Linked DNA regions of Homo sapiens: region 2 is linked to region 1. Evidence: fine-mapped expression QTL. A gene starts in region 1. The other region holds a variant in brackets. All regions are shown on one strand. Distances are between the middles of the regions. Region 1 holds the start of LARP4B (La ribonucleoprotein 4B). Region 2 overlaps LARP4B (La ribonucleoprotein 4B).

The links.
Region 2: its variant is fine-mapped to the expression of LARP4B in whole blood (TOPMed, PIP above 0.99).

The regions. Positions count from the first base shown.
Region 1 is chr10:926,694-936,556 of GRCh38, reverse strand. LARP4B (La ribonucleoprotein 4B) reads left to right here and starts at 4,852. Exons shown (of 18, transcript NM_015155.3): 1 at 4,852-5,129. It overlaps LOC124902363 (keratinocyte proline-rich protein-like), which reads right to left and starts at 4,566. Exons shown (of 2, transcript XM_047426111.1): 1 at 3,442-4,566; 2 at 468-1,721. The coding sequence starts at 4,430. The coding sequence ends at 3,726. It overlaps LARP4B-DT (LARP4B divergent transcript), which reads right to left and starts at 3,531. Exons shown (of 3, transcript NR_120629.1): 1 at 3,442-3,531. RefSeq lists silencers at 4,272-4,361, 4,442-5,151, 5,222-5,331, 5,362-5,441, 5,532-5,661.
Region 2 is chr10:804,979-814,841 of GRCh38, reverse strand. It overlaps LARP4B (La ribonucleoprotein 4B), which reads left to right. Exons shown (of 18, transcript NM_015155.3): 17 at 1-100; 18 at 1,629-5,345. The coding sequence ends at 1,916. Among named protein-coding and RNA genes, the nearest start is that of DIP2C, 120 kb to the right of the region's middle. RefSeq lists enhancers at 1-129, 130-630, 4,547-5,047, 5,048-5,548 and a silencer at 5,285-5,490. The variant T/A (reference allele first, on the strand shown) is at 3,864.

The DNA of each region.
Region 1 (9,863 bases):
TAGAGACAGGTGTTTCACCATGTTGGCCAGGCTGGTCTCGAACTCCTGACATTAGATGATACACCCGCCTCGGCCTCCCAACATGCTGGGATTATAGGTTTGAGCTACTGTGTCTGGCCTGCCTCGTAGTAAATCGTGACTCACTGCCTCCTTCTTCCCACCTGTGTCCTTCTCGTGGATGGTTTGTCTCTGGCCCCGGCTTAGTCATCATTTTCTGGTTCCTTCTTAAGTTGGCTTGGACCCCGCTTGTGAGCCACCCAAGCACTCTACACAGCCTCACCTCACCCTCCATCCCTCATCCTCACCCTCCATCCCTCGTTACCTGCTTCTCATCTGTGATGCTCCCCTGATCTCTGCAACATTAGCAGTCCCTGAGACCGCGTAGGTACTCAGTGAATATTTGTTTAATCAATGGGCAAAGGAATAGTCCTAAATCATCAAAAATGAATTTTTGAGCAATGCGGCTACACATTGGAGAAGTAGTGTTTATTTTTTCACAGAAAATGCTTCGGGATAAAATAAAAGAATGTTCACCTGTAATCCCAGCATTTTTGGGAGGCGGAGGCAGGTAGATTACTTGAGGTCAGGAGTTCGAGACCAGCCTGACCAACATGGTGAAACCCTGACTCTACTAAAAACAAAAAACAAACAAAAAAAAAAAACAACAAAAATTAGCTGGGCATCATGGTGCATCCCTGTAATCCCAGCTACTCGGGAGGCTGAGGCAGGAGAATCACTTGAACTCGGTAGGCGCAGGTTGCAGTGAGCCAAGATTGTGCCACTGCACTCCAGCCTGGGAGACAGAGGGAGACTCAAAAAAAAAAAAAAAAAAAAGAAAAGAAAAGAAAAAAGAAAAAGAAAAGAATGTTCTCAGACACCACTTGAAATGTAGGCCTCTGCTAGAGAAATACACATGCTGTATTTGTTTGGTAGAGACTTTGTCCCAAGATCACTGCCCTCGCTGCCTCTGCCCTTGAGGCCTGACCATTTCTTTGGGATGACAGTAGTGTCAGCTGAAAATTGTATGATGTGATGTAGCTCAACAGAGCTACAAACAAGTGCTAATAATAGGGCCCAGAAGGAAAATCAACTGTCTAAAACACTTCAGTGGTTGACATTTGGGCTGTAACTTGAAAAATAAGCGAGATTCCGCCAGAAGGAGACATCCAAGTACAGGAAGCACATTTGAGGCCAGGGGACTCACATCCATTAGGACCTAAGTGCTCAGGCTCCAAAAGAATGCCGCCCTCGACTTCCAGAGCAGCGCAGCGTCTGGAGCTGGGGCACCTCTCCATTTCTTTGTATAGGACTGTCCACACTATGAACTGTGGACTTACCTGTCAACTGTGCAGTCTGGAGTGTAAAGTCTGTATTTTATTCAAGTGTAGACTCATCAACTCCCTCAATACCTTCAAAAATGCTCGGAAAGTGAGTGTGATTGGAAGGTAAGGATGTCTTAGGATAAGGCAGGAAAGGAAACACAGGGGGCTGGGCTGAAGACAGGCTGGGACTAGCGTGTGAAGGGTCTTCTTTCCACAGGAGAACTTGGACTTTATCCTCCTGGGCAGGCAACGGGGAGCCGGTGAAGGTCGCATTGCAGGAGGATGGTGATGAAGCTTTTTAAGGAAACATGTGCTGGCACTGTGAGTAATGGACTGTAGCAGAGACCAACCGCGACGCCACTGAATCAAACCAGGTGAGCAGTAACAACGGCAAAACCACTGGGGGGACGGGGAGAAGGAAAGAGTTTTTAGGTAGGATTGACAGAATTTGTAACCACTTGACATGGGAAATGAGGGAGTGTATCTGATCATGGTTTGAGAAATTTATACTAAAGTTTTAAAAAACTGATCTTGTCTAAGGAGAGATGCCATGAAAATGTATTTCATGTTATAACCTCACATCTCAAGGTGAAAATGGATGTTTCTTCTGAGACACAGGTTTGAAAAAAAGAAGATCATGAGGGAACAAAAAGCCCAGTTCTGATTGTTGGAAAGGATTACACAATACGAAGAGAAAGAAGAGATGGAATTCTTTTAGTTTTAGTTTTTTTCTTTTTCTTTTTTTGAGACAGGGTCTCGCTCTGTCACCCAGGCTGGAATGCGGTGGCACAATCACAGCTCACTGCAGCCTCAACCTCAAGCGATCCTCCCACCTCAGCCTCCTGAGTAGCTGGAACCACAGCCATGCACCACATGCCCGGCTACTTTTGTATAATTTTTTAAAGAAATGGGGCTTTGACATATTGCCCAGACTGGTCTTGAACTCTTGGCCTTGGGCGATCTGCCTGCCTTGGCCTCCTAAAGTGCTGGGATTACAGGCATGAGCCACTGAACCCATCCCATTACTTTCTTTTGTAATAGGTAAGACATAGATGTCTGCTGGAATGTAGACATAGACAAAAAAGATTGAAGTTTAACCTACCAGCCGGGAACGGTGGCTCACGCCTGTAATCCCAGCACTTAGGGAGGCTGAGGCAGGCGGATCACGAGGTCAGGAGATCAAGACCATTCTGGCTAACACGGTGAAACCCCATCTCTACTAAAAATACAAAAAATTAGCTGGGCGTGGTGGCATGCGGCTGTAGTCTCAGCTACTCCGGAGGCTGAGGCAGGAGAATCACTTGAACCCGGGAGACTGAGGTTGCAGTGAGCCGAGATTATGCCACGGCACTCCAGCCGGGGTGACAGAGGGAGAGTCAGTCTCAAAAAAAAAAAAAAGTTTAACCTACCAATTTTGGGGCAGAATTCCTAGACTTATACCACATCAATGGCCCTAGCAATGTTATGAACCAAGAGTAAGCTCCTGTAGGTTATCCGTGGAGGTAAAGGAACCAGGCACCTAAGCAAGGACACTATGGCCTACTGGTCAGGGCAGGTTGTCCAGGTAAGCAAGTTTTCTGAAATATGTACATGCTTTTAATATTAAAGGAAATGTGTCTTATGTCGTTAAATGTTCTTTAAAAACATTACTATGAATATAATTATTTAACTTGCAAATTCCCTTAAAGCTAGGATGCAACAAGGTTTCACAAAGAAGGCACCCAACCTTGATGTCAACAGTCTACCCACTATGGGAAGCCGGAGAGGCTTTCTTCCAAAATGCAGAATTGTCAGCATTTGAACGCTGAGTACGAAAAATTATAAGCACAGGCTGGGTACACCGGCTCCCATCTCTAATCCCAGATTTTGGGGGCCCGAGACAGCACTCTGAGCTCAGAGTGCAGACCTGCATAGAGCAAGACCCTGTATCAAAAAACAAAATTAAAAAAGCAGTTGTAAGCACAGGTACACGGTTAACCATGAATATGGTATCCCTGAAAAGCCGTTTTAATGGGGGAACAAACCTAAAATTTGGAATAATTGATAATATGTGTATATGTAGCCAATCAGAGCAGAAACCAGAAAATCAGGCAGCAAGCTTAAGGGAAACGCAACATACTTTGTTTGGTTTCCTTTTCTTCCATAAACTGATCAGGGGTAGGTAGAGTATGCTGCTATAGTTCGGAGTCGTCACCATCCTCACGGAAACGGCAGGAGTGTGAACACCTCCCTGAGCTACCAAGAGCATCTGACTCGTTGCAACGTGGGCCCGAACCCAGCGCCTCTAGGAAACGTGGGGCCGGGGCCTTTTGGTCCCGGGTGTGGGTTGGGGGTTTGGGGAAGGGCCGGGGCCTTGATCCCAGGTGTGGGGTTGGGGATTCCGGGGCTGAGCCGAGGCCTTGGTTAGGGGTGTGGGGCGGGGGTTCGGGGCAGTGCCGGGGCCTTGGTCCCGGGTGTGGGGTTGGGACTTCGGGGCCGGGACCTTCGTCTCAGGTGTGGGGCGGGAGTTCGGGACAGGGCTGGGGCCTGGGTCCCTGGTGGGGCGTTCGGGGCAGTGCCGGGGCCTTGGTCCCGGGTGTGGGGTGGGAGTTTGGGGCAGGGCCGGGGCCTGGGTCCCGGGTGGGGCGTTCGGGGCAGGGCCGGGGCCTTGGTCCCGGGTGTGGGGTGGGAGTTTGGGGCAGGGCCGGGGCCTGGGTCCCCGGTGGGGCCTTCGGGGCAGGGCCGGGGCCTTGGTCCCGGGTGTGGGGTGGGAGTTCTGGGCAGGGCCGGGGCCTTGGTCCCGGGTGTGGGGTGGGAGTTCTGGGCAGGGCCGGGGCCTTGGTCCCGGGGGTGGGGTGAGGGGTTCGGGGCAGGGCCGGGGCCTTGGTCCCGGGTGTGGGGTGGGAGTTCGGGGCAGGGCCGGGGCCTGGGTCCCGGGTGTGGGGTGAGGTGTTCCGGGCAGGGCCGGGACCTTGATCCCAGCTGTGGGGTGGGAGTTCGGGGAAGGGCCAGGGCGTGTCCTGGGTGGCCAGGGTCGGGGCCTGGGTCCTGGGGGTGGGATGAGGGGTTCGGGGCAGGGCCGGGGCCTTGGTCCAGGGTCTGGGGACAGGCTAGGGCCGGGGTCGCCATCCGTCCTGGGCGGCGGGCAGGGGTCTTTAAGGGGCGCACGCGGTGGCGGAGGACCAGGGCCCAGCCCTCCGGAAGTCAGGGCCCACACGGCCCCCCAGCGTCAGGCGCTCCGGTCGCGCCGGGGACGGCGGGCGGGGCGGGCGGGGCGGGCGGGGCGGACGTGCGGCGTGCGCGGGGCGGGGCGATGTGCGCGCACGCGCCAATCGCAAGGCCGCGAGCAGGGTGTACGCGCGGAGAGGCCAAGAAGGCGGCGGGGCGGGCCGAGCGTCGGGTGCGCCCAATCAGCGCGCCGCAACACCATGACGTGAGGCTCTCCCGGGGCTGAGCGCCAGTCCGCGGGACCGGCGGGTGAGTGCGCGAGTTCAGGGCGCGAGGCGCGGGTCCGCGCGGGGGCGGGACTTCCGCAGGGCCCCGGAAGTGGGAGCTGTGTGTTCTCATGCGAACGGGAAGGAGCGTTGGGGATCTGGAGTCCCGGGGTTGAGACATTTTCGGGCCCGAAAGGGGAAGAATCCGCCGCCGCCGCCGCCGCCAGCTCGCGCCCGCCCTCTCCCCTACCTCCGGCCCGGCCCGGCCCGGCCGCGCCGCCTCTCCCTGCCGTCTCTCTCCTCGCCGTCCCCGCGTGTGGCGCGGCCGCCGGGCCCCGGGGTTGAGGCGAGGAGCCCGCGGGCGGCCGGTCGGGCGGGGCGGCGGCGCTGACAGGTGAGGCACCCTGGGCCGCGGCGGGCCGTCCCTCCCGGCCCAGCTCGGACCCGCGCCGCGCCGCCTGTCACTGCGCCGCCATCTTCCCGGAGGACGCGGCCGCGGCGGGCAGGGCCGGGCCTGGGCCGGGGCCGGGGCCGGGGCAGGGGAAGGCCGGGGCCGGGTTGAGGAGGACCGGGGCTAGGGCACGGGAAGGGCCAGGGCTGAGGAGGACCGGGGTCAGGGCCAGGAAAAAGCCGGGGCTGAGGAGGACCGGGGCCGGGGCAGGGGAAAACTGGGGCTGAGGATGGCCGAGGCCGGGGCAGGGGAAGGCCGGGGCCGGGGCTTAGGAGGACCCGTTGAGGCGAGGCGGGAGTCGACGGAGCTGGGTGCCCGGAAGACCGGGCCGGGGTCAGGGTCGGGAGGCCGGGGTTGGGCGAAGGCCGGCGAGGACGGGGGTCGGGCAGGGCCTGGGCGGGGCCGGGGTCGCGGGCCGCGAGCGCCCCCAGGCCGGGCGGGCGCCGGCACCCGCAGTGCGGCGCCAGCCTTGCCACTCGCTCCTCGGTCCCGCCGGAGCCCGGATAGGCGGCCGTGCGGGTGCGGGGCGGGACGGGTCATCAGGGCATCGCATTCCTTTAGAACCAGGAAGTTGGGATCCTGTTGCTCGGTGTGTGTTTGGAACGCTCCTGTTTTCCTGTTGATAGACTTGAGCAGAGGTGGATCTGAAGGAGTTAAAAAAATAAAGTCAGATGTGAAGATTGCCTGTGTTGGTCTTGGGGCTGGGATACATGGGCGGCAGAGAAGCCATCGGAAAGCTGCTGCACCTGCCTCTCAGGGTGCGCTTGGGAACGTGAAGAGTCTTTCCGTTTCAGTGCCGTTGTGCGTCGAAACTTCATGCGAATGTAATTTTGCTTTTCCCCTTATTTTTACGTAAAACGTTCTTAAAACTTGGCTGAGATGAAACTTGAGAAACCTAGCTGTAGAAAACTACCTCCTATCTGGCTTTCGTTTGAGATTCTCTAAGTGGATGCCCAATAACTTGTCTTAATAGTAAATTGGAAGTTTGAAGTTTTGGATAACTGAGAAAACAGGAAGGTTTTCCTTGACAGGGCAGTGGAGTTTGTAAGTATAAACAGTATGCGTGAGGCCTTTTTCTAGAGATGAGAGCAACTCCAAGGTGAACATTGAAGGGGACAGACAAGTTATTTTCCCTTTCGAAAGTTTTTTTCTCTTAGTTTCAGTTGTTTGAATATTTAAATGCACTTGAAATAGGTGCTGAGTTGTAGTTTGTGAAGACCACAGTGGGGAAGAGTGGTGTCCTCTTTTTTCTTGGTGGTCAGGTGGTGTGTGCAGTGTGCAATTTCCATACTTCCCCAACCTGCCTGGCGCCCCTCATTACAGTCAGGGTAATTTACAGAAGTTGAAATCGTTGTGGCTTTTCAGTTTTTTCTCCTTGTATTTAATATGCTGAAAGGCAGTTTTGTAATCAAACCATATAAGAAATAGCTTAATTGAGGTTTGCTAAGTGAAATGCGTTCCGAAAGGCATCAGATTAACAAGCTTATTATTTAATCATAAATTTAATTTGTGTACTTATCTTTGAAACTTGCATTGGTTAGAAATAAATTTTATCCGGTATTTTGAAAAGTTAATGTGAGTTGAGTTGACTTATTTATATGAAACAAAGGCATGGCTTATTCATTAGAAGTTACCCTCGTGTTGCCTACATTTTCTCAATTGTAACAGGGGGATGATGATAATCTCATTTTCTTAGGACTGTTGTAACACAAACATGGAAATGTTGTCTGGTTTTGCTATTTTCACTATTACTGATTTTTTTCTTCCCCCCCCGAGTTGGAGTCTTGTTCTGTCACCCAGGATGGAGTGCAGTGACACGATCTCAACTCACTACAACCTCCACCTCCTAGGTCTTCAAGTTATTCTCCTGCCTCAGCCCCCCGAGTAGCTGGGATTTACAGGCACATGCCACCACACCTGGCTAATTTTTGTATTTTTAGTAGAGACGGGGTTTCAGCATGTTGCCCAGGCTGGTCTCGAACTCCTGGCCTCAAGTGATCCACCTGCCTTGGCCTCTCAAAGTGTTGGGATTACAGGAGTGAGCCACTGCGCCCAGCTTACTGAATTTTTAAAATATTCTACCTTGTAGCTGTCAATCTATTAGCAGAAAGTTTTGTTTTTGTTTTTGTTTTTTTGTTTTGTTTTTTTTGGCTTGTTTACACATGTATCTGGGCAGAGAAAACAGCTTCTGAGCACAGAATGCATATTTGGAGAAAGCAGTTCCACTCTTTTTGAGTAGGAACCAGACAGAAAAAAAGATAACATGGGTACTATTCTGTAGAAGAGTAGCTGAAATTAAGTGGCAGCAAATTCAGGGAGAAATGTAATTTGGTTTAATGTTCGGGAAGATTGCCATTTTTAAAAGTGAGATTTAAAGAATTTATTGAATTTAATGCAATTTCCATAAGTAAGCACAAGTTTTGACAAGTATATATTTAAGGTGTTTTTATGAAGCAGTCTTCACATTATCTTAAAATGTAGTTCTAAAATACGTGCAGGCTGGGTGAGGTGGCTCATTCCTGTAATCCCAGCACTTTGGGAGGCCTAGGTGAGTTTAGGAGCCCAGGAGTTCACCAGCCTGGGCAACATAGAGAGACCTCATCTCTACCAAAAAATCAAAAAATTAGCCAGGCATGGTGGCTCACACCTGTAGTCCAGCTGTTGGAGAAGCTGAAGTGGGAAGATCGCTTGAGCTTGGGAGGTTGAGGCTGCAGTGAGCCATGATCCTGCCACTGCACTCCATCCTGGACAACAGTGAGACCTTGTCTCCCCCCACCCCCAAAACATGCAAATTGGGACATCAAATTGTTAATGGTGTTTACAATGAACAGTGCCTTCAGGTAGCTGCAGCTACTCTACATAGATTTGCAAGTTTTTGTAGTGATAGGCTATGGTAGATGTTACCAGCCAAGGAGTGGCTGACAAACTCCTTTCACTGTTATTTCATTGTCATGTTAAAATTCATATTTTCCGTCAAAATAGTGATAGCTAGGATTATAATCTAGGTCTTCTAATCTTAGTAACGTGTTGTCTATGTTAGGGCCTCTCAAAGTTGTAAAAAAGCTGTATAGATGTGTTACCATCAATCGATTTCATTTGTTTTTATCCTAGTGTTAAAGGTACAAGTTTTTTTTTTTTTTTCTTTCCTGAGGCGGACTTTCACTCTTGTCGCCCAAGCTGGAGTGCAATGGTGCGTTCTTGGCTCACTGCATCCTCCGCCTCTCGGGTTCAGGTGATTCTCCTGCCTCAGCCTCCCGAGTAGCTGGGATTACAGGTGCCCTCCACCACACCTGGCTAATTTTTTTTTTTTTTGTATTTTTAGTAGAGTTGGGATTTCACCATGTTGGCCAGGCTGGTCTTGAACTCCTGACCGCAGGTGATTCGCCCGCCTCGGCCTCCCAAAGTGCTGGGATTGCAGGCGTGAGCCACGGCGTACCTGGCCAAAGGTACAAGTTTTAAATATGCTTTTATCATGCATACAGTACTCTTATAGATTCTGTCAGATTTAGGGATATTCTTTTCAGATTGATAAATTGCACAAAAATCTTGGAGTATATTCTTGTAATTTCTTCTACAAAATTCTCAAAACAACCTTTTTCCAATGGGGAGAAGACATGAACACTGAAGTCATGTTTTTGGAAAATACCTTGTTAAAAACAGACACTGCTGTAAGGGTTTCCTTGCTTATGCTCTTTTGTAGAACTTTATTGATGTGAAGAGTTCTCCTTTTTCTGTAAAAGCTTATTTTAGAGTACGAAGTAAATGAGGCACTCAGAGAGTTAACCTCATCAGGTCTGAGTTTAGTTCAGTTTAAACTTTTTGCTCTTATGCTGGTTGATATCTTTGTAACTACTCTACTTCTAGAGTTATTTTGATTGGAAAATGAATTCCTTTTTTAGAACATGGAATTGTAAGGTAGAAAACTGCTAGGTTCTCAAAAGAAGGGAGATAAATTCCAACTTGAAAGTTTTTTCCCCTAACGTTCTAATGCTTTGTTTTTCCTGTGTGTAAATGCCTTCCTTAGGAACAAGGAAAATTATTAACTCAGCTGTGTTTCCTTCCCTTCTCTTTCTCACTGCCCCCCCGCCACCCCATACCTTAATACCTTTTGTCCCTTCAATGCCTTTATAAACTCTGTCTTCTCATAGTTTTTCTGGTGAAGCTGTCATGGCTCCTATTTCAACCATAAAGGATTTGCAGTTCAGTGATGCTACTGGTTTTACATCTTCTTTCCCATCAACCCCATTGCCCTGGTTAGGAGACCTAGACCATGGAGTACATTGCAATATTGAAAGTATTTCATGTTTAACACAATTTTTTTTTTTTTTTTTGAGACCGAGTCTCGTTCTGTTGCCCAGGCTGGAGCGCACTGGCACGATCACGGCTCACTGCAACCTCTGCCTCCAGGGTTTAAGCGATTCCCCTGCCTCAGCCTCCTGAGTAGCTGGGACTACATACAGGTGCGTGCCACCACGCCCGGCTAATTTTTGTACTTTAGTACAAATTGGGTTTCACTGTGTTGGCCAGGCTGGTCTTGAACTTCTGACCTCAAGTGACCCATCTGCCTTGGCCTCCCAGAGTGCTGGGATTACAGGCGTGAGCCACTGCGCCCGGCCATGTTTAACACAAATTTGAAAGCGTACTGCTTAGTTTTTTAGGGGGAGTATGATAATCATA
Region 2 (9,863 bases), 120 kb after region 1:
GGTGGCGGAGAAACAGAGGGAAACCCACAGTGTGGACAGACTTCCTTCCGCCCTCACTGCGACCGCGTGTAAATCGGTGCAGGTGAACGGAGCCGCCACGGTACGTACCTCGTGCCTGCCTTCCTGCACGACAGCCGCGAGGCTCTGGTGTGAACAGACGCTGCGCACTCCTGCACCTGCTCGTTTTTTAATCACATCTAATTTGGTGGGTTTTTATTTGCGTCTGTCTGTGTTGTGTTTTCTGTACAAAATACCTTTAATATTTGCTAATAATTTTCCACTAACTACTCTAGTTCTTTCTCAGACCACCATGTAGTCCTTTTATTTCAGTGTTGGTCAATAGAGGTTTCTTGAGTAGTAACAAGACCCCAGCTCCTGTTTCTCCATAGACTTTAGGATCATTTCAGCATTTCGCGCGTGTGTGTATGTTTGCGTGCGTGCGCGCGCATCGTGTGTCTGATGAAGAGACAGGAAGAGCAAGATGGTGGCCCCACCAGCCTCCAACCCCTGTGGGCCCAGCAGGCCTGAACCCCAGCGACTTCCTTTCTGCTGTTTTCCCTACTGGGTGAACTGTGGCCTCTCTTACTCTGAGTTGTGGCCTCTGTAGTTTGATCTTGGGGGAGCCTTTTCCTTGAATTTGGGAGTTTAATCCCTTACTGTCCCCTGGGCTGAGTCTAAAAAAGGATTTTTTATAGGTTAAAATTAATAATTTTAATAATAAATAATAATAATAATAAAAGAGGCCAGGTGCTGTGGCTCACGCCTGTAATCCCAGCACTTTGGGAGGCCGAGGTAGGCAGATCATGCGGTCAGGAGATCCAGACAGTCCTGAACAACATGGTGAAACCCTGTCTCTACTGAAAATACAAAAAATTAGCTGGGTTTGGTGGTGGGCACCTGTAGTCCCAGCTACTCAGGAGGCTGAGGCAGGAGAATCACTTGAACCCGGAAGGCAGAGGTTGCAGTGAGCTGAGATTGCACTGCTGCACTCCAGCCTGTGCGACAGAGTGAGACTGTGTCTCAAAAAAAAAAAAAAAAAAGTTATTAAGGGAAATATTTTACTTTTCTGTTATTTAGTCTTTATGCTTCCACTTACCTGAAAACCCTATTACACATTTCTTGAAGATTTTAGCTGTCTTCATCATTCTTAGATATTTCCAGTCCTTTGTAGTTTGAAATGTGCAAAACATTTTTATTTAAAGACTGTTTTTGGAGTTTGCCTTTCAGGGTTGAGTACCGTGTGAGGGTCCATTGCCCACCGTGGGCACCTGGGACACCCTTCTGTTGTCCTGAGCTGGCGGAGCCAGTGTGGGCAGCATCCGGACTCTTCCTAGGCTTCCGCATTGCCCAAGCAGGCATAGGGCTGGGTAGGGATGGTGTTGAGTCAGCACTCTTCTTCGTCATGCCTTTTCTAATTTTATCCATTACTACAGTAGCACAGAGGGAGTGTTCTGCTGCAGGGGAAACTAAATCATTAGATTTTATGAACTTTTTAAAAGTTAAAAACACTAGTGAAGATGGAAACTTAGTTACAGTTGAAAACTCTTTTATCTTAAGTGAACTTGATTTCCTGTCTTGTCCCTAGAGACACCATTTCACACAGGTAACCCAGGATTGTCTGTTTCCAGGAATTGCGAAAGCCCAGCTACGCAGAGATTTGTCAGAGAACGAGTAAAGAGCCTCCTTCTTCCCCATTGCAACCCCAAAAAGAACAAAAGCCAAACACTGTTGGTTGTGGGAAGGAGGAAAAGAAGCTGGCAGAGCCCGCAGAGAGATACCGGGAGCCCCCAGCCCTCAAGTCCACACCTGGAGCCCCCAGAGACCAGAGGCGGCCGGCGGGGGGCCGGCCCTCGCCCTCGGCCATGGGGAAGCGTCTCAGCCGAGAGCAGAGCACTCCCCCCAAGTCTCCTCAGTGAAAACCGTACGTCTGGGAGGGGTCGCAGAGCGCTGTGTTAACCACAAACGAGACACTCTCCCACTCAGTGCGAGGGCGAGCCGCTGGTTAGGAGCTTGCAGTGTCTGAGGCCTGTGGGATCCTCAAGTTGGTTTTCTTCTGTGAGTTGGATTCTCCCCCTCTTGAAAAAAAATCGATTTTTCAGGATTTAATTAATACAAACCTTATTTTAGGTTGGTGCTTAACTGGAGGTGATGCATAAGTCTGATTTTTTTTTCCAAGATAGAAAAAGCATTTATCCTAACAAATTGGTATTTTTTATTAAGCCTCCATGTGGCTCTGAATGCAAGCTATATATAGTGAGTTTTTCTAAATTAAGGGAACTCTGCTTTTTTTTTTTTTTTTTAAGTAACTGGTCTGTAAGTGCATATCTCTAGAACGTCCCCGCAGATGAATGAGGGCCAGTGGCCTTGGCAGAGGCAGGTGTGGCCTCGTAGAGGCAGTGCTGGCCGCGCCAGGGCATCAGTGCTGATGTGGGAGCTGTGCTTCCACCTAAGCCGTTGGTAGGGGACTGTGGCATTTAAGAATGTAGAGAGCGCATCCTTTTTGATCTCCTGGGCGGAGTGAACCTGCAGGGGCCACCCCAGAAACCTTGGTTCTGATGCACTGCAAGCAAGTAACCAGCTTCTCACTCCAGTTTCAAGTGGCTATTATGTAATATAAATTCAAAGCACATTGTGAATAGAACCTACATGAAAACATACACTTTGTTGCCCACTGACATGTTACCAGAAGTTGTACCATGATGTTGTTTTGACCCCTGTGAGCTGATGGCCCCGGCCCTGCTCTGTGCACATTTCTGTCCGTGTTCCCCAGCACTCTGGTTGGAGAGAGTCCACATCTTCAGCTCCGTGTGGACATCTCCCTGTACCTCTGCATCAGCACATGGATTTAAGAGTTATGTAATCGTGAGAGAATGGTGTTTGTGGTTTTTCCCCCTCTTTGGCTGGTGGAGGATAAAGTTCCTGCTCTTTTACCTCCAAGACGAGGGCCTCATTGATTCACTTCCAGAAGTGCTGCACTTCTGAAGAACAAGGATGCACTAAAGTTAGCAAGTTTATAATAAAGTTAAATATAAATTATTTTGTTTTAAAATGCCTCAAATTTTTCTTTATTCTAAGCAGCAAACATTAAAATAAGAATATTTCCTGCTAAATGTAACCATACACTTTATTCCACAAAATGTTATTTAACAAGACTGAGGGTTTTTTTTAAGAAAAAATTATTTCCATCCAATATTTAAAGACTTGAATTTTATTTAAACTTGAAAATGACTTTGCCTTAACTTTTGTATAAGACAGCTTAGAGTCCATGGAGCCCGGCCCTGGGTTGGCGTGAGTGGGTCAGAGTTACTCAGTTACTGCGTGGATCTCCTGTCGCTAGTTTTACTGAGTAAGCATACTGTAGTACAAGAGCTAGTAGTAGTTTTTGTAATATACCTTAAAGATCTTCAACAGTTGATCTTTTTTCAGAATGTTGGAAAATCCTGTAAATGCAAATAGTCAATACTGTATTAAATACGTGCACTTGGAGTGTGCTTCGCTTGTACAGTTGTAAATAATCAGAACATATGAAAAAGGTACCCTACAGAGAAAATTCTGATACAGATTATTGATATATTATAAATGTTGCTGTTGAGCGGGATGTAGATAAACTAAATGTTGTGGTTTGAATATTATTTTGATTTGTTGAGATTTTCTTTTTTCTCTTACATCGGTGTGTTGAACTGATTCTGCCTCTTTGCTGCAAAAGGGAATTGGAAAGTCTTATTAAAAGCCTCCAGATGTTTTCATACTCTTTTAAAATGTATGTAAATGCATACTAATCATATCTAATGTGAAAGAGTTTTAAAGTATATAGAGAGCAAAAACTGGCAGGATCGTAAGTGAAGGTGACTAGTAATCTAATT[T/A]AAATCACCTGCAGCTAAGCATGATTGACCCTGCCAGAGGAAAACATGCCTATTTGACCATTTCCTTTAAAGCAGTTGCCATTATTCAAATACAGAGAAATAGCCACAGGGCTAGTGTTTTTCAAATGCATTTTAAAGAACATGGGGATTTTTTTTTGTAGTTGTCAGTTCACTGACCAAAAAAAAAAAAAAAATCAGAAATAATTGATCTGTGAAACCCAAACTCTCAATACTCAGAAAGCTGGGAGGCAACCTCGAGGCCTGGGCCTACGAGCTGCATCTTCGCTACGGAAGGGCCAGGGCGCCATCAGCCATTCCCAAAACACAAGGCCTGCCCGTCCGCCAGTGAGTCCTTGGTTTTTAATAATGAGAAGTCCTTTCCCCCAAGGTGTGAGCATTGCAGCGCAGTGTGTGTGTGTGGTTAGAGCCAGCTTAGTCCTTCACTTTGTCGACCGAAGTGGGAGCTCAACAGCTGCATGAGGAGGGCAGCGCGTGCATTAGCCAGTCGCCACTGGAGGGCTCTGCTGCCCTCCGGTCAATACACTGTAGTTACTGCCTAGCCAGCAGCAGTCTTCTGCATCAAGAACTGAAACGTTGCTCGGAGGTGATTTTTATAGCATCCTTTTTAATTAAAGGTGAAATACAGATTGCTATATAATGTCTGAAAAAACCTGATACTACTTCAAGAGTTTCTGCTCAGAAGAAAATGAGAGTTATCATAATAGGAAGCTGTGGCGGTCCATGCCAACTGTGCTGTGTCACATACAGCGATGAGAGTGGCTTTCATACTTTTTTTTTTTTTAAGTTAACACCCTCCTTTACCCCCAGCAGTATCTCAGGTTATAGAATCAGAGATGCAGCAGTGACAAATGGCATTTTAACTTGTAAAATCGTGTGATGATGCTTATCATTTTGAAATAGAAGAATAAAAACCTGGTCCCGTTTCACCAGACATGAATTTCAAGTGGAGTCGTCGTTCTCTGAGAGTGAGTGTCTTGACATTTTCACCCAGGCCCTCCTGTCATCACATCACCGGCTGTCACTGGCGGGTGGCCGTAAACGTCCTGCGTTGCTATATTAGGATCTCTGCAGTTCAGGCTTCAAAACCAGTTCAGTGTATCCGGGCGACGGGTAGTGGTGGTGCATGCCTGTCTGTGTGCCCCGCTGGCGAGCTGTAGTTGCGGCTTGCGTGCCTCGCGGCCCACTACAGGGCTGCAGACAATCGAGGCGAGGGCGCTGGCCGCCAGCAGCTCACAGCGCGGGGGTCATGTGGTCGCTCCTCGAGGGTTTCGTTTTTGTTCTGCTTCATTAAGACTGGAATCAAGCTTACATGTAAACTATTGGTAATTTAAGTTTCCTTTTGTGTCATTCAGTGTAAAACTGTCTAATTTGAAAAAAAATGTAGGTTATGAAAATAAAGATTTAGGCACTGTTCAATTTTTCTTTTGATTTTTTTTAAATTAAAATTTCTTCAATAATGCATCTTTTCTAAACATAGTTTTTTGTCTGTTCCCATAAGTGCATGAGAAAGAAACACGGGCCTCATATATGATTGGATCCTAAAGCCTTCTCACCTACGTGGGGGCTGGCTGTGGCACACGGGGCTCACCCTTTGTGTTTTAGTGGTTCAGAGTGAGCATTAACATCAGATGCTCATGCGGAGACAGCCATTACTGTGACTGCCAAGATGTACTGCAAAAATACATGTTCCTGTATCAGGACTTTGATTTTGTTAAAATGGCACTCTCTCCAAAGCTGTGTCCATGAAGCTGTTTGGAGCTAACGTTGGGTCTTCATGGTGATGGACTCATCCTTAGGCAGCAGTGATGTCTGCACTAGGAAGAGGCTGGCGGGAGGCGGGGCCCCTCCTGTGCCAGGCACCGAGTGGATGGGGGACTGATTAACATGTTGCTGCCTTCCTCCTCTGTGCATTGCCTTTTCATGTCGTCTTCCCATTTTTACTCTTTTTCTGATGGAATTAATATTCTTGATCTGTTAAGGCTATTAATCCTTTGTCATATATGTTACAAATATTTTCTTTCAATCTACCATTTGTCTTAACTCTTTATTTAGAATAGTATCTTTTACGGTGTTTAATTATTGTGTAGTAAAATCTATCAATCTTCTCCTTTGTTGAGTGTCTTGGACTTGCTTAAGAAGCCTTTCCCTACTCCAGGGTCATAAAGTTAATAGTGTGTGTGTATGTGTGCGTGTGTGTGTGTGTGTGCGTGCACACGCACACACACACACACACGCTTTTAATCCAGCTGGGCCTAATCGTGTGTGTGGTGTGCGTGCTTAGGCAGGAACCCAGTTTTACTTTATGCCATGTGGAAAGTTTCTTTTTCCAGTATCACCAGTGAGTTCACTGTCTCTCCACTGGTCTGCAGTGCTGCTTCTGTTACTTGCAGACTTCCCACGTGTGCATGGATCTCCACCTGGGGTCTCTAGGGTCTCTATTCTACACTGCCTATTTCCCTTTCTGTCCTAACACCATAGCATTTAACTCACCCGTCATCCTGTGTTGCTGAGAATTTCCTTCATAGAACTCATCAAAGTATGATTAACTGTGCTCCCTGAGGGCAGGAATTATGCCATCTGGATCACCAGCCTCTCCCTTGTCCTTAGCACGCCATCTGCAAATTAGCAGATACTCGGTAAATGTGTATTAACTCGAAGTATATTTTGTGTCTTCTCTGTGCACAGCACTGCCCTGGGAAGAACTAGGATGAGGTATTGACTTGCTGTTGCCACATAACAAACCCTGCCAGAACTCCCTGGATGGAAGTGACCACCGTGTATCTGTGGATTGTCTGCAGGGCTCTGCTGGGGTCAGCAGGTCCCACAAGAGAGCCAGGGCTCGGTCTCCTCATGGCTGTCAGAGGTTTACGTATTCCGCCTCCACCCACCAAAGTCTGAAGTTGTTGTATTCCATTCCTTGCTATATCCACATCTTTTAATAATGCTAAAATCCCGTGTTTCTCTAAAGCATTGGATTGAACCAACTGAAGAAGGACCACGTGTGTTGCTGGGCCTGCTTGGGCACAAGCCGTTTCCGATCCAAGTCAACTGCTGGTCTGCTTAGACGAAGGTGTGTGGGTGTCTCCACCACGGAGAGGAGGGACAGCAGGTGAGACCATAGGCCAGGAAGGAAGGGCACAGCCTAAGCGTGCAGTGGCTTAGCCAGAGACCCTCGTGCACCAGCCTTCAGGTGCTTATGGAACTTATGTCAGCCCAGGCCATATCCAAGTGTGTGATGTCTCGGAGCATATATGCCAGGCCAGCCGGAGAGGCTTAGCCCTGCCCTGGTGGAGCTGGAGGGCCGCAGGGCCGCCCGGTGGGGTCAGGAGGTTGTGAAGAGGATCCTGATACAGGCTGGGCCTCCCTGCAGGCGTGAGCCCCGGAGCACGGGGTGAGCAGCTCCACCCAGAGGGGCTTGCAGGACCAAGCTGGGACAGCAACCACCAGGCCCTGGGGCAGATCAGTGAGCGTCCAGGAGATGCAGATGCAGAAGACAGCCAAATTCATTCACCTCTGCGTGGGCCTGTGAGGGCCCACAGAGATGCATTTTCATTCACGACCAGGATTTCCTCGGCCGGAGCAGCCGCTTTTCCCAGCCGAAGCTCACTGTGTTTACTACATAGGATGTGAGTGTATAGAAAGACTCTCTCTAACGTTAGCTACGCGTGCAGAAATGTGGGGCGCTTACAAGTGTGGGCAGCCGCAGCCTGTTCCTCACCCCTGTCCTAACGGGACATACTCCACGCATGCACATTTAGGATCACCGTGTCTTCTCGTTGGACTGATCTGTCATTAGGACCCTGGACCCAAGTAATTGTCTTTGCTCTGAAGTTTTGACAGTAACAAAGGCATTCCAGCTCTTTCTTTTTCACTCCTGTCGGTGTAACGTGCCGTTTTTCATCCTTTGACTTTTAGCCCGCCTGTGCCCTGTCTGAAGGGAGTTGTCTGTGGACAGCACGGAGTGGTGGGTGTTTGTAATCCACTCTGCCAGCCTCAGTCTTCTAACTGTTGCGTATGGACCAATTACATCTGCCCTTTCTCTTCCCTGCTGCTCTGTTTCTTTTTTCTCTTTGCCTTCCTGGAGATTGTAATTTGCCAATTCTCAGTCCTCTCGTGCTCTCAGCTCCCAGTTGACCTTCTCCTGCTGCTGCGCCTCCCGTTTCCTGAGGCCAGTGGGGGCAGTGCCCTCTTCAGTGTCTGCCCTTTGCTACTGGGTAGTTTCTTCCAGGCCCACACCTTTCTACTTCGTGCAATGCCGCACTTTCCATGCCAGCTGAAATCCATCAGCCTGGAAGCACAGAGGCCGCAGCCTGGGCCCGGGGGCAGGTGCAATGTACTGTCCCCTGCAGAGGAAGGCAGAGCTCCATGCTGCTGTCGGGCCGGGCCACCGTGGTGGCAGCGTCCTTGGCAGGCAGCAGGAGTGTGCGGCAGCTGGGAGTGTTGCAGCCAGACATCTTAACCTCGGGGTGGGGGTGGGGAGACGAGTTTCTTTTTGTGTGGCTTTGGGAATAAGGAAACAAGTTGCCAGTAAATTGCACATCTTACTGGCTAGATTTAGGATCCAAACGCCGTCACGGGGAAGGGGCTTTCAGGTCAGTGAGGTCCATCCTGGGCTCAGGAGTGGGGCCACCTCCCCCAAGGTGCATGGTGACTGGAGAGAGGGGTCCCTGAACAAAATTGGGGCCATTAAGAAAGAAGGGGTAACTAATACGTCCACTCAGTACATTCGAGCTCCTCAGCCCCAGCCTGCTCAGCCTCCAGCCCATGTCTCACTGTGTCCTTGGCGTGGCCACCTGCAGTCAGTCCACATTTCAGATGGGACCACCCACCCTCCGGCCTGGATCCTCCTGCTCCTCACCGGAACCCCATCTCCACGGGCAGCCCCGACGCAGACAGGCAAGCCCAAATCCTGGGCCAGTCTTGGTTCTTCCCCAGATCCTTCCGAGAGTCCAGCCCGGCCATCTCGTCGCCAGTCTCCCTGCCCCGTTCTCCACCTAGCCCGAGGGTTCTTTTGTGGTAGTGAGCGCGCCCTGTTCCCTTGCTTTAAACGCTCCAATGGTTTCCTGCAGGAAGAAATAAGGTTTAGACGCGCGCCTGCAAGTCACTCCCCAACCCACCTGCAACTTCATCCCTGACCCCACACTCTCTGCCCATGCTGCCTGGGACCTGCTGGCCCCTTCCCGTGGAATTTGTTTCTCCCTTCCCAGAGATGCCTGGCGCCCTCTCCGACAGCCGCCTGTCCCCGGCTGCTTCTGCAGCACTGAGCACCGTTTGTAGTCGTCTAATTGGTCTACTTCTGGCGTGAGCCCCTTGGGCCTGGCACCCGTGAATGCTCTTCCCCTGGGTACCTGCAGCACCCCCTGGGCAGGGGACGCTTCCGGGTCCATTCCTCGCCCGGTGTCCAGACGCTGTGGACAGGTGCCAGAGGCAGCTCCGCAGAGGGCGCTCCGCAGAGGCCGCCAGGCCGCGTCCACAGCTCAGCCAGTGCAGGTTCAAGTCCCGGCTTGCGCGCCCCTCCCATCCCTGCGTGGGGCGGCCTCACCACGCACACCTGCCGCCGTCTGTGTCGGCCTCTCCCTCCATCCCTGCTTGCGCCCTGGATCCCCGTCCGCCTTTTTCCGCGCAGCAGCCCGGGGGTCCTTTGCATCCCCGCTCAAAAGCAGGGAGGCACCCACGCACCTCGCTCAGAGCAGAGACCAGAATCCAGGCGGCTGGCCGGAGGTTGGGCCCCGCGCCCTCGGCGTCCCCTGCACCCTCCAGGCCCCCCACGCGCCCTCGACCTCCAGCCGCCCCTCCGAGGCTCTGGAGCTGCCTCATAGGAAGTAAACCTAGAGGGAAAGGTCAGGAGGGATGGGAAGAGCCCCCGGCCACCTGGGAGACGGGGGAGGGCGGGAAAGAAACCATCAACATAGAGCAAGCCCAGGGTGGAGCTCACGTGGGTTCGTGGTGTTGACACTGCAAGCTGGAGAGGCGGGGAGA